Homo sapiens: one gene and its partner. The protein of the gene in region 1 purifies or fractionates together with the protein of each later gene. This does not show direct contact. Each region holds a gene or a part of one and is shown in the gene's direction. Other genes may lie near its edges.

Region 1 (5,637 bases):
AAATTGTTTACTGAATTGGATGTAATAAAAGACTAGTCAGCAGCATATACAGATTCCTTCCATAAAATATAACTTTATGATACCAGGCAGGGCTCCTTTTATGGCTTTCTAAAATCGTTTGGTTGAAATTGCTAGAGGTGTGGAGGGCCTTCACTTGTGTGTCGGTAGCCAGTGATTTGATTACATTATATTTCCCTGGGCAAGCAGAGCCAGGAGGCCTCTGGATGGGGGCTGAGGCCTTGATTGCCCTGGTGGGTACTCTGAGTTGCAGAAGGTGGGTTTCTTGCTAGACGGTTTCTGTTTCAACAAGGTCTCAGGTGCCTTTTACTGCAAGGAATGTTGTAGGTCTCTAATTGTGGACTCGTATATCAGTTTTAATGGACTGAAAATCCACAGAAAGCACTGGGGAGTGTGCCTCCGTGGAGAATGGGCCAACAGCTGGATACAACCAGATGGTGCCCTAGATCTTACGGATGGACAAGGATGGGTACAGACAGGTTATTAGGAAGGACTTAAAGAGTTGGGGAACCTGATTCAAACAAAGTCCTCGATAGCCTGAACGTAGGCGGAAGGGGAGAAATGGTAAGTGTAGTCAACTGATAGCTACCAATTGGGTGCTCTCAGGAGACCTTGGGACCACAGCCAGTGGGGAAAGTGGTCTTGAGAGATGATGGGGACCAGCTGGAGCGGGCCAGATGCCGGCCTCCCTTCCTCCTGGAAAGAAAACGCTTCAGTCCCACGATGGTTTCTACCTTGGCACTCACAGCCCTGTCTCTTCCCTTCCAGCCTGATCCTGCCTGAAGATGGTGCCACTGGTGGCTGTGGTATCAGGGCCCCGTGCCCAGCTCTTTGCCTGCCTGCTCAGGCTGGGCACTCAGCAGGTCGGCCCCCTTCAGCTGCACACCGGGGCCAGCCATGCGGCCAGGAACCATTATGAGGTGCTGGTGCTGGGTGGGGGCAGTGGCGGAATCACCATGGCTGCCCGCATGAAGAGGAAAGTGGGTGCAGAGAATGTGGCCATTGTTGAGCCCAGTGAGGTAAGCCTCCCCTTTTGAGGGCCTGGGTGTGTGTGTACGTGTGTGTGTGTGTGAGTGTGTGTGTGTGTGTGTTCTGGGGTTGGATATGACTATCAAGCAATGGGTCTTCATATGTTCAGGTTAGGGCTTCTCCTGGGCACAGAAAGCAGCCTATCCAGAAGGACTGGGAGGAAGTGGAGGGAAAGAGAGAGGGAGAACAGATCTCTTGGCTTTTAGTGTTCTCCTCTGTATTAGTTTCTTAGGGCTGCCATAACAAATTACTGCAAATTGGGTGGCTTAAAACAACAGACATCTATTCCCTCACAGTTCTGGAGGCTAGAAGCCTGAAACCAAGCTATGGGCAAGGCCATGCTCCCTCTGCAGCCTGGGTGAGAGGGATGGGCAGGTGGCTTTGTCTCATGCCTCTCTCCCAGCTTCTGGTGGTTACCCTGAAATCCTTGCCACTCTCTGGCTTGTAGCTGTGCCACTCCTTTCTCTGCCTCCATCTTCACAGAATGTTCTCTGTGTGTCTCTGTGTCCCTGTGTCTTCACATGACCCTTTTATAAAGCCACCATTCATTGGATTTATGGCACACTCTATTCAAGAATGACCTCATCTTAATTTGATTACATTTGCAAAGACCCTATTTCCAAATAAGGTTACATTCCCAGGTACTGGGGTTAGAACGTCAACATCCTTCTTTGAGAGAGATACAATTCAACCCATGACACTCTCCCAGTGCCAACCTCCTGCCCAGAGGAAAATCAATGGCCACTGCACTTGCCTATCTGTTCCTGTCTGGAGAAGGGATGATGAGTTGGGGAGCAGGAAGGCCTCTGGAAAGCTGTCAGTGGGCTTAGAAATTTAAATGCAAGGGCAGATTATAAGGGAGAAAAGGTAGCTGACACTAGGAGGGAAGACTGAGTAAGGCGCTGTCTCACAAAAAACATGTTAAGATTGTCCAAAAGCTTCAGAAAAATATTCAAGATTTTTGGTGGTTTGCCTAATGTTTCCTGTGGAACTAGGCATGTACTGGTTGGGAGCTGTATCCTTGGGAGGAAAAAGCAAAATGGATCAGGTGCCTGTTTCAGGGGGAGGACAGGACAAGGAAGACATACTCCTTTTCAAGATTTGTCCCCAGCAGGGAATGATGTTAACCAGGGCCATGATTTGAGAGGAAACTAGGGGGCAGTCTCTATCATTTTCCTTTTTAAAGTGACGTCTGTTCAATTCAGGAACCTCACTTTAAATGACAGTGGTCTGAGAGCTGTGTCAGGTGGCTACTGTTTCTGGTATATGTTGTATTTTAGCTAATGCGTGGGCGGGTCTCCCAGTCAGGCTTCTCTTTGTAAGGAGACTGGCTCTTCTGGGACCTGGGCACAATTCAGGCGGCCAGAATCAAGTTTGTCCTGCCCCGTGAGGAAGTACAGGACAGGAATTTCTGGAAGGAGCTGCCAGAGCCCCAGGCTTGGTACTTTCCCTGCTGAGTCTGATTTAGTGATAGCTGGAGCTGATGTTCATAGTCTAAAAATAAAATCTGAGCTTGTATTTTTGCTCCTCTTACTGTTCAAGATAGACTGGCCATTGATGAGCTCTCATAAATGGAGACCTCTGTCTTCCTCCCTCTTGGATCACATTATTGCTTGTAGGGAGATTGCAAAGTCATTCCTGGTGTCCTCTTCACCTCTCTGTGGGTTTTGGCAGTGCTGGCCAGCTACTTTGAGGCATTTTGGCAATATTGAGAGCTCTTGGTCCCCAGTCTACTCTAAGTGGATTGGAATTCTTAGAGGCCATTAAACAAATCTGCCCTTTGCCCCTATGTCCAGAACTTTTACAACTAACTTAGATCAAGAATGGACTGTTGCTGGGCACAGTGGCTCAGGGCTGTAATCCCAGCACTTTGAGAGGCTGAGGAAGGCAGATCACCTGAGGTCAGGAGTTCAAGACCAACCTAGGCAACATGGTGAAATGCCATCTCTACTAAAAATGCAAAAATTAGCCAGGCATGGTGGCACATGCCTGTAGTCCCAGCTACTCAGGAGGCTGAGGCAGAAGAATCGCCTGAACCTGGGAGGTGGAGGTTGCAGTGAGCCGAGATCGTGCCACTGCACTCCAGCCTGGGTGATTGGGGTGATTGGGCGAGACTCTGTCTTAAAAAAAAAAAAAAAAAAAAAAAAGGACCATCTGAAGCAAGAAAACTCCAGAAGATAGTGAAAGTTTGGGTATGCATTGCATTGTGGAGTAGGATCTGGTACTTATTGTCTTTGGTGTAAAATCTCTGAGTCTCTGAGAAAGTAGAAGAAGGGCTGTTCAGGAAACACAGCCCTCACTGGGCTTGGGAAACACAGTTGGAAGTTAATGAAGTTTAGAGGACCTCTGGAAGGGGCTGTAAACTTTCCAGACTTACCACTGTCTCCACATGCTCCTGAGGAACCATATCTAGGCTGCTGGGCTTAATTTTTAAAATATTTGTTCACATGAAGTATCCATAATATGTGTGTAGATATGCACGTGCATATAACATGTACATATTAAACACCAAATCAACTTTCAGCAATACATAATGCAGTGGTCACTAAAGATAGTTTATAGCTTTTCTGATGATCTTGGAAGAATTCTTGTGTGGAGTGACTGTCCTTCAGAGCTTACCATAATAGGAGACGCCTAATAGACGGAGCTAACTTTGTGGAGACTTTTCCATACGATGCTCTAAAGGTCAGGAGGGAGTGATTGAAAGAATCTAGCCCATACTGTTAGCTATGACCCCTTTTGATCAGTGTCAAATTGCAATAAATCTTCAAATACTTTGTTTCTCAGAGACATTTCTACCAGCCAATCTGGACACTGGTGGGTGCTGGTGCCAAACAATTGTCCTCATCTGGTCGTCCCACGGCAAGTGTGATTCCATCTGGTGTAGAATGGATCAAAGCTAGAGTGACTGAGTTGAACCCAGACAAGAACTGCATTCACACAGATGACGACGAGAAGGTAACCACTGAGGCCTTTAGATTTTTTGTTAATCTGACAGCTTGTATTAATATGCAGCCATCTTAAACTGGATAGCCTTGTGTTGAAAGAGCGGTATATATGCATGTGTGTGCATGAACGTATGTGTGTTGAATACTACACAAGATGGCAGGGTATGTGGTAAGTGGAGGATAGATGGAAGGACTGAGTGATATTGAGTTAATAAACAACTAAGATAAGTATTTGTTGAACACCCACTGTGCACCCTATTGCTTAGTATACTATCTTGCACCTGAATGTTTATCAGACCATTTGTTTATACGTTGCTACATGTTAAAATAGCAAGCACCTTCCTCCTTCTCTTTTTCTGAAGCAATCAGATTTTCTACCGGTCGCCTAGCCTCCCAGAACAATAGGATGCTGGAAAATATCCATCCAGCCACCCTGGGGGGCGCTCTACCAGAACTGTAGGGGAATCCTGTGACTCTGAGGTTCATGCCAGCGCTAAGGAGAATTGTTGCTGGAGCTTGAGGCTCACAACTGCTCAGCACCTTTTAGAAGTCTCCCACCCTCACCACTCAGGGGTCAAAGCTTTTCAGCAGTGGCCGCCCCATGTTTGACTGAGGTGATAAGAGCAGGATGGTGGAAGGCCTGCTCAGAAGCCATCTGCAGCTTTCTTTTCCCCCACCTGCTGCTGAGCCCAGGGCAGGGGCAGGCAGTGCAGCCACCGTGCTCTGACCTGTTCCAGGCTCCTGTGGTTTTTGGACTCACAAGGTGTTATTGGTCTTAATCCTCTGCCCCTTCCCCCTTCAACTGGGACTCTGGCATTTTCACGGAATTGTAGAATCAGAGTTGGGTGAGGATCCTAAAACGTTTTCAAGTCCAACCCTTCCTCCAACAGAGATTCATCTGCTGAGGCATTATTTTTTTTGAGACAGAGTCTCACTTTGTCACCCAGGCTGGAGTGCAGTGGCACAATCTTGGCTCACTGCAACCTCTACCTCCTGGGTTCAAGCGATTCTCCCACCTCAGCCTCCCCAGTAGCTGGGACTACAGGTGCGCATCACCATGCCTGGATAATTTTTGTATTTTTTGGTAGTGACGGGGTTTTACCATGTTGGCCAGGCTGGCTCGAACTCTTGACCTCAAGTGATCCACCTGCCTCAGCCTCCCAAAGTGTTGGGATTATAGGGGTGAGCCATTGTGCCCGGCCTGCTGAGGCATTGTTAAGCTTTTTTTGGGTCATGGATCTTTCTGGGTACCAGATGAAAGCCCTCTCTAGAAAAATGCACCTATGTATCAGATTTTGCATTTGCTTTTAGGGAGTTCAGAGATTTTCTGTAGCTTTTCCCTGGACCCTGATCAAGAGTACCTGCTTTGGCTGAGCATGGTGGTTCACACCTGTAATCCCAACACCTTGGGAGGCTGAGGTAGGAAGATCACTTGAGCCCATGAGGTCAAGGCCAGCCTGGGCAACATAGTAAGACCCTGTCTCTACAAAAAAAATTAAGACATTAGCTAGGTGTGGTGGTGTGTGCTGTGGTTCCAGCTACTTGGGAGGCTAAGGTGGGAGGATCACTTGAGCCCAGGAGTTCAAGGCTGTGGTGAGCTGTGATTGCGCCACTGCACTCCGTCTTAGGTGACAGAGCTGTC
Region 2 (5,015 bases), on another chromosome or scaffold:
AGCAGTACTTTCATTTAGGCACTGCCAGACAGGTGCCAGCGTCCTACGTGCACCAGGATGCTGCCCCTTTTCCCAAATATTGGCCTCCCCCACCCCACAAGAGGACAATTAGGTCAGAGGCTGAGAGAGGCGTGCATGGGACGTACGGGACGGTGGGCAACCCTGTGTTTGTAAAAGCACATGCTTTTCAGATGCCTTCTGCCAGGTCCCCGCCTGGCTGCACCATTCAGACTGACCAACCTTGGGGTGGGTGGGAGAGGTGAGGTCCCCTTGGAGAACCACAGAGACGCTCCCTCCCTCCAACCCTACCCACACTGCAGTTCTGAGTTTGTCCCTTAAAGTTCCAGGGAAGAAGCGATGGCTTAGGATTAACAACAGCAGGGTAGCTGTTGCCAGTGGTGCATACGTACAGCCCTGCGCTTGGAGAGGCCCTTTCCCCGGGCAGATGGCCCCCTCTCGTCTGAGTCTCTCTCCTGCGCCCTCTCCTTCAGCCCTGCCTCTCCATCAGGACCTCCTCATTGGCTGTGTCTGGGCATGGTCCCCAACCTCCCTCCCCCAGCCCCTCTTCTGTCCCTAGAGGCAGTGGGGTGGGCGGGGCAGGGTCCAGGGATCCCAGTGTCCACCTGGAACCCTGCTCTTCCTCTCTCGGGTTAGGAGATTCTGCACGGCCCCTGGGAGACACACAACACCCTGCCTACACCTGTTAAGGTACGGAAAGGGCGTGGGCGTGATGGGTGCCCCCAGGATCACCCCCAAGGACCAGACTGAGCTCAGGGGACTGCAGGGAGTGTTCTGCGGTTCACAATGTCGCTCCCTAGTGATGCAGTATCTGTGTTCACTTAGGATAAAGCAACAGATACACCTATCTGTGTGTGTGTATATATATATGTATTACATATATAATTATATAAATAATTATATATAAATAATATATAATATATAAATAGTAAGTATATAAATATATATGTAAATATATATAAATATATAATATATGTAAATATATTGTATATAAATATATATGTAAATATATATAAATATATAATATATGTAAATATATTATATATAAATATATATGTAAATATATTATATATAAATAATATACAAATATATATGTAAATAATAAATAGATAAGTATATAATATATGTAAATATGTAATATATAAATAATATATAAATATATAATATATTTAAGTTATAAATATATAACTATGTAATATGTAAATAATAAATAATATATGAATATATAATATATTTAAATAATACATATATAAGTATATAATATATAAATAATAAATAATATATAAATACATAATATATTTAAATAAATATAAGTATATAATATATAAATAATAAATAATATATGAATATATAGTATATTTAAATAATAAATATATAAGTATATAATATATAAATAATAAATAATATATGAATAATATATTTAAATAATGAATATATAAGTATATAATATATAAATAATATATAAATATAAAATATATTTAAATAATAAATATGTAAATAATAAATATGTAAATAATAATATATAAATATATAATATATTTAAATAATAAATATATAAGTATATAATATATTTAAATAATAAATATATAAGTATATAATATATAAATAATAAATAAAATATAAATATACAATACATTTAAATAATAAATATATAAGTATATAAGATATAAAGAATAAATAATATATAAATATACAATATATTTAAATAATAAATATATAAATATATAATATATAAATAATAAAAAATACATAAATATATGTTTAAATAATAAATATGTAAATATGTAATATATGAATATATATATATTATTTTTGGCAATCTCTTTTATTTGCCTCAAGAAAGCACACTCCTCAGAAGATTTTTTCAGAAGCTGATGTGTGTTTTTGTTGGTTTGTTTTACACTTTTTACTTCCATAGGTTTTGGGGAAACACGTGCCATTTGGTTACACGAGGAAGTTCTTTAGTGGTGATGTGTGAGATTTCAGGGTATCCGTCACCCAAGCAGTATACACTGAACCCGGTTTGTGGCCTTTTATCCCTCATCCTCTCCCCAATCTTTGCCCTGGAGTTCCCAAAGTCCTTTGTGTCATTCCTTTTTTTTTCTTTTTTCTTTCTTTCGTTTTTTTTTTTTTTTTTTTTTTTGAGACAGAGTTTCACTCTGTTGCCCAGGCTGGAGAGCAGTGGCGCGATCTCGGCTCACTGCAACCTCCTTCTCCCGGATTCAAGCGATTCTCCTGCCTCAGCCTCCTCCTGAGTAACTGGGATTACACGCATGTGCCACCACACCCGGTTAATTTTTGTATTTTTAGTAGAGACGGGGTTTCACCATATTGGCCAGGCTGGTCTCAAACTCCTGACCTTGTGATCTGCCCACCTCGACCTCCCAAAGTGCTGGGATGACAGGTGTGAGCCACCGCATCCGGCCGTTGTGGCATTCTTATGCCTTTGCATCCTCATAGCTTAGCTCTCACTTATGAGTGAGAACATACGATGTTTGGGTTTCCATTCCTGAGTTACTTCACTTAGAATAATAGTCTCCAATCTCATCCAGGCCACTCCAAATGCTATTCTTTTTCATGACTGAGTAGTATTCCATCATAAGTATATGTATATATATATACACATCATATACATCTATACATATATGTGTATATATACACATATACATCTATACATATATGTGTATATATACACATATACATATATACATATATGTGTATATATACACATCATATACATATATACATATATGTGCATATACACACATCATATACGTATATGTGTATATATACACATCATATACATATATGTGTATATATACGTGTGTGTATATATATGGCACACATATATATGACATATATGTGTGTGTGTTTGTGTGTGTGTCAGTGCCGGCATTTATATATATAAATACACCACAGTTTCTTTATCCACCTGTTGATTGATGGGCATTTGGGTTGGTTCCACATTTTTGCAATTGCAAATTGTGCTGCTATAAACATGCCTGTGCAAGTATCTTTTTCGTATAATGAGTTACTTTCCTCTAAGTATCTTTTTCATATAATGAGTTACTTTCCTCTACCTAGATACCCAGCAGTGGGATTGCTGGATCAAATGGTAGTTCTACATTTAGCTCTTTAAGGACTCTCCACACTGTCTTCTATAGTGGCTGTACTAGTTTACGTTCCCACCAGCAGTGCAGACGTGTTCCCTGTTCGCCACATCCACACTAGCATTTGCTATTTCTTGATGTTTTGATTGTGGCCATTCTTGCAGGAGTGAGGTGATGTCACATTCTGCTTTTGATTTGCATTTCCCTGATCATTCGTGATGTTGAGCGTGTTTTCATGCCGCTGAGCCGGGCTGGGACCTTGAGGACTGCGTTGATGCTTTTGTGCAGAGTGCCCTGCTCCAGGGGAAAGGTGCTGGTGCCCTGAGCAGAGGGACTTTGTGGAAGCAGGATGTGTGATTTTCTAGCCAAGAAGGTCTCCATGGGAGGGAGGAGTCCTATGAGACTCTCCATGGCTGGGCAGGGAGTGGCACAGACAGAAGCAGGTGGCAGGTGCCAGGCTGTGTTGGTTTCGGATGATGAGTTGGTGGAATGGCAATGTGCTGTCCAGGCTCCCCAGGAGTTCATGAGCTGGGGGTGGGCTGAGCATGCTAACCCCTCGGGCTGGGCACAGTCAGGCTGGGAGGGGGCCTGGACATTGTTTACGGGGGACCCTGTAAGCAGGGGGACCCCTGATGGAGAGGGCATGCAGGAAGATGGGGCAAGGACAGATCTTGGGATAGAACCATTCATGAGACACAAAAGGCACAGGCTGTCTGCTGGAGCACTAGTGACATTTGGGGCGGGGGAATTCCCTGTGGTGGGGCCATCCTGGGGATTGTAGGGTGTAGAGCAGCGTCCCTGGGCTCCAGCCACAAGGTGCCAGGAGCACCCACAGTTGTGACAATCAGAAATGTCTCCAGATATTACTCAATGTCTCCAGGTAGCAAAATCACTTGCTCATCTATCACTGTCTTAAAGATAGATGGGTGACAAATTAGATAGATAGATAGATAGATAGATAGATAGACAGACAGACAGACAGATAGATAGAATCGATAAATAGATACATAGAATAGATAGATATATACATACATACATAAATTAGATAGGTACATACATACATACATACATGGATAAATAGATTAGATAGATAGATACATAGATACATGCATAGATTAGATAGATAGATGATAGATTAAAGAGATATATAGATAGATGAGAGATAGAATAGACAATACATACATAGATATAGATAGATAATGGTGATGATAGACAGATAGATATATAGATAATAGAGATAGATAGAAAAGATACATACGTAAATTAGATAGATATATACATACATAGATTAGATAGATACATACATACATGGATAAATAGATTAGATAGATAGATATATAGATGCATAGATTAAATAGATGATAGATTAGAGAGATACATAGATAGATGAGAGATAGATAGATAGGATAGATAGATACACACATACATATAGATAGATAATGGTGATGATAGAGAGATAGATCAATCAGATAGATAGATACATAGATAGAATAGATACATACATATGTACGTACATAAATTAGATACATATATACATACATACATAGATTAGATAGGTAGATACATACATACATACATGGATAAATAGATTAGATAGATAGATACATAGATACATACATAGGTGCATTAATAGATTAGAGAGATAGATGATAGATTAGAGAGATACCTAGATAGATGAGCAATAGATAAGATAGATAGATATGTACATACATATAGATAGATGACAGATAGATAGATAGATAGATAGATAGATAGATAGATAGATAATGGTGATGATAGGTAATAGAGATAGATAGATACATACATAGATACATGGATACATAGATAGATAGATAGATAGATAGATAGATAGATAGATAGATAGATAGATAGATAGATCATACATAC

What was found. Proteins that work in one complex are often made in the same cells at the same time.
Region 2: the proteins of SQOR (region 1) and P2RY8 purify together in Homo sapiens (co-immunoprecipitation; one large-scale study listed by IntAct). This does not show direct contact.

What each region holds. Positions count from the first base shown.
Region 1 is NC_000015.10:45,658,121-45,663,757, forward strand, and holds part of SQOR (sulfide:quinone oxidoreductase, mitochondrial), read left to right. Parts: intron 1-786; 5' UTR 787-803; coding exon 804-1,037; intron 1,038-3,834; coding exon 3,835-4,005; intron 4,006-5,637. UniProt on the Homo sapiens protein: Catalyzes the oxidation of hydrogen sulfide with the help of a quinone, such as ubiquinone-10, giving rise to thiosulfate and ultimately to sulfane (molecular sulfur) atoms.
Region 2 is NC_000023.11:1,530,149-1,535,163, reverse strand, and holds part of P2RY8 (S-geranylgeranyl-glutathione receptor P2RY8), read left to right. Parts: intron 1-5,015. UniProt on the Homo sapiens protein: G protein-coupled receptor for S-geranylgeranyl-glutathione (GGG), an endogenous metabolite present in lymphoid tissues.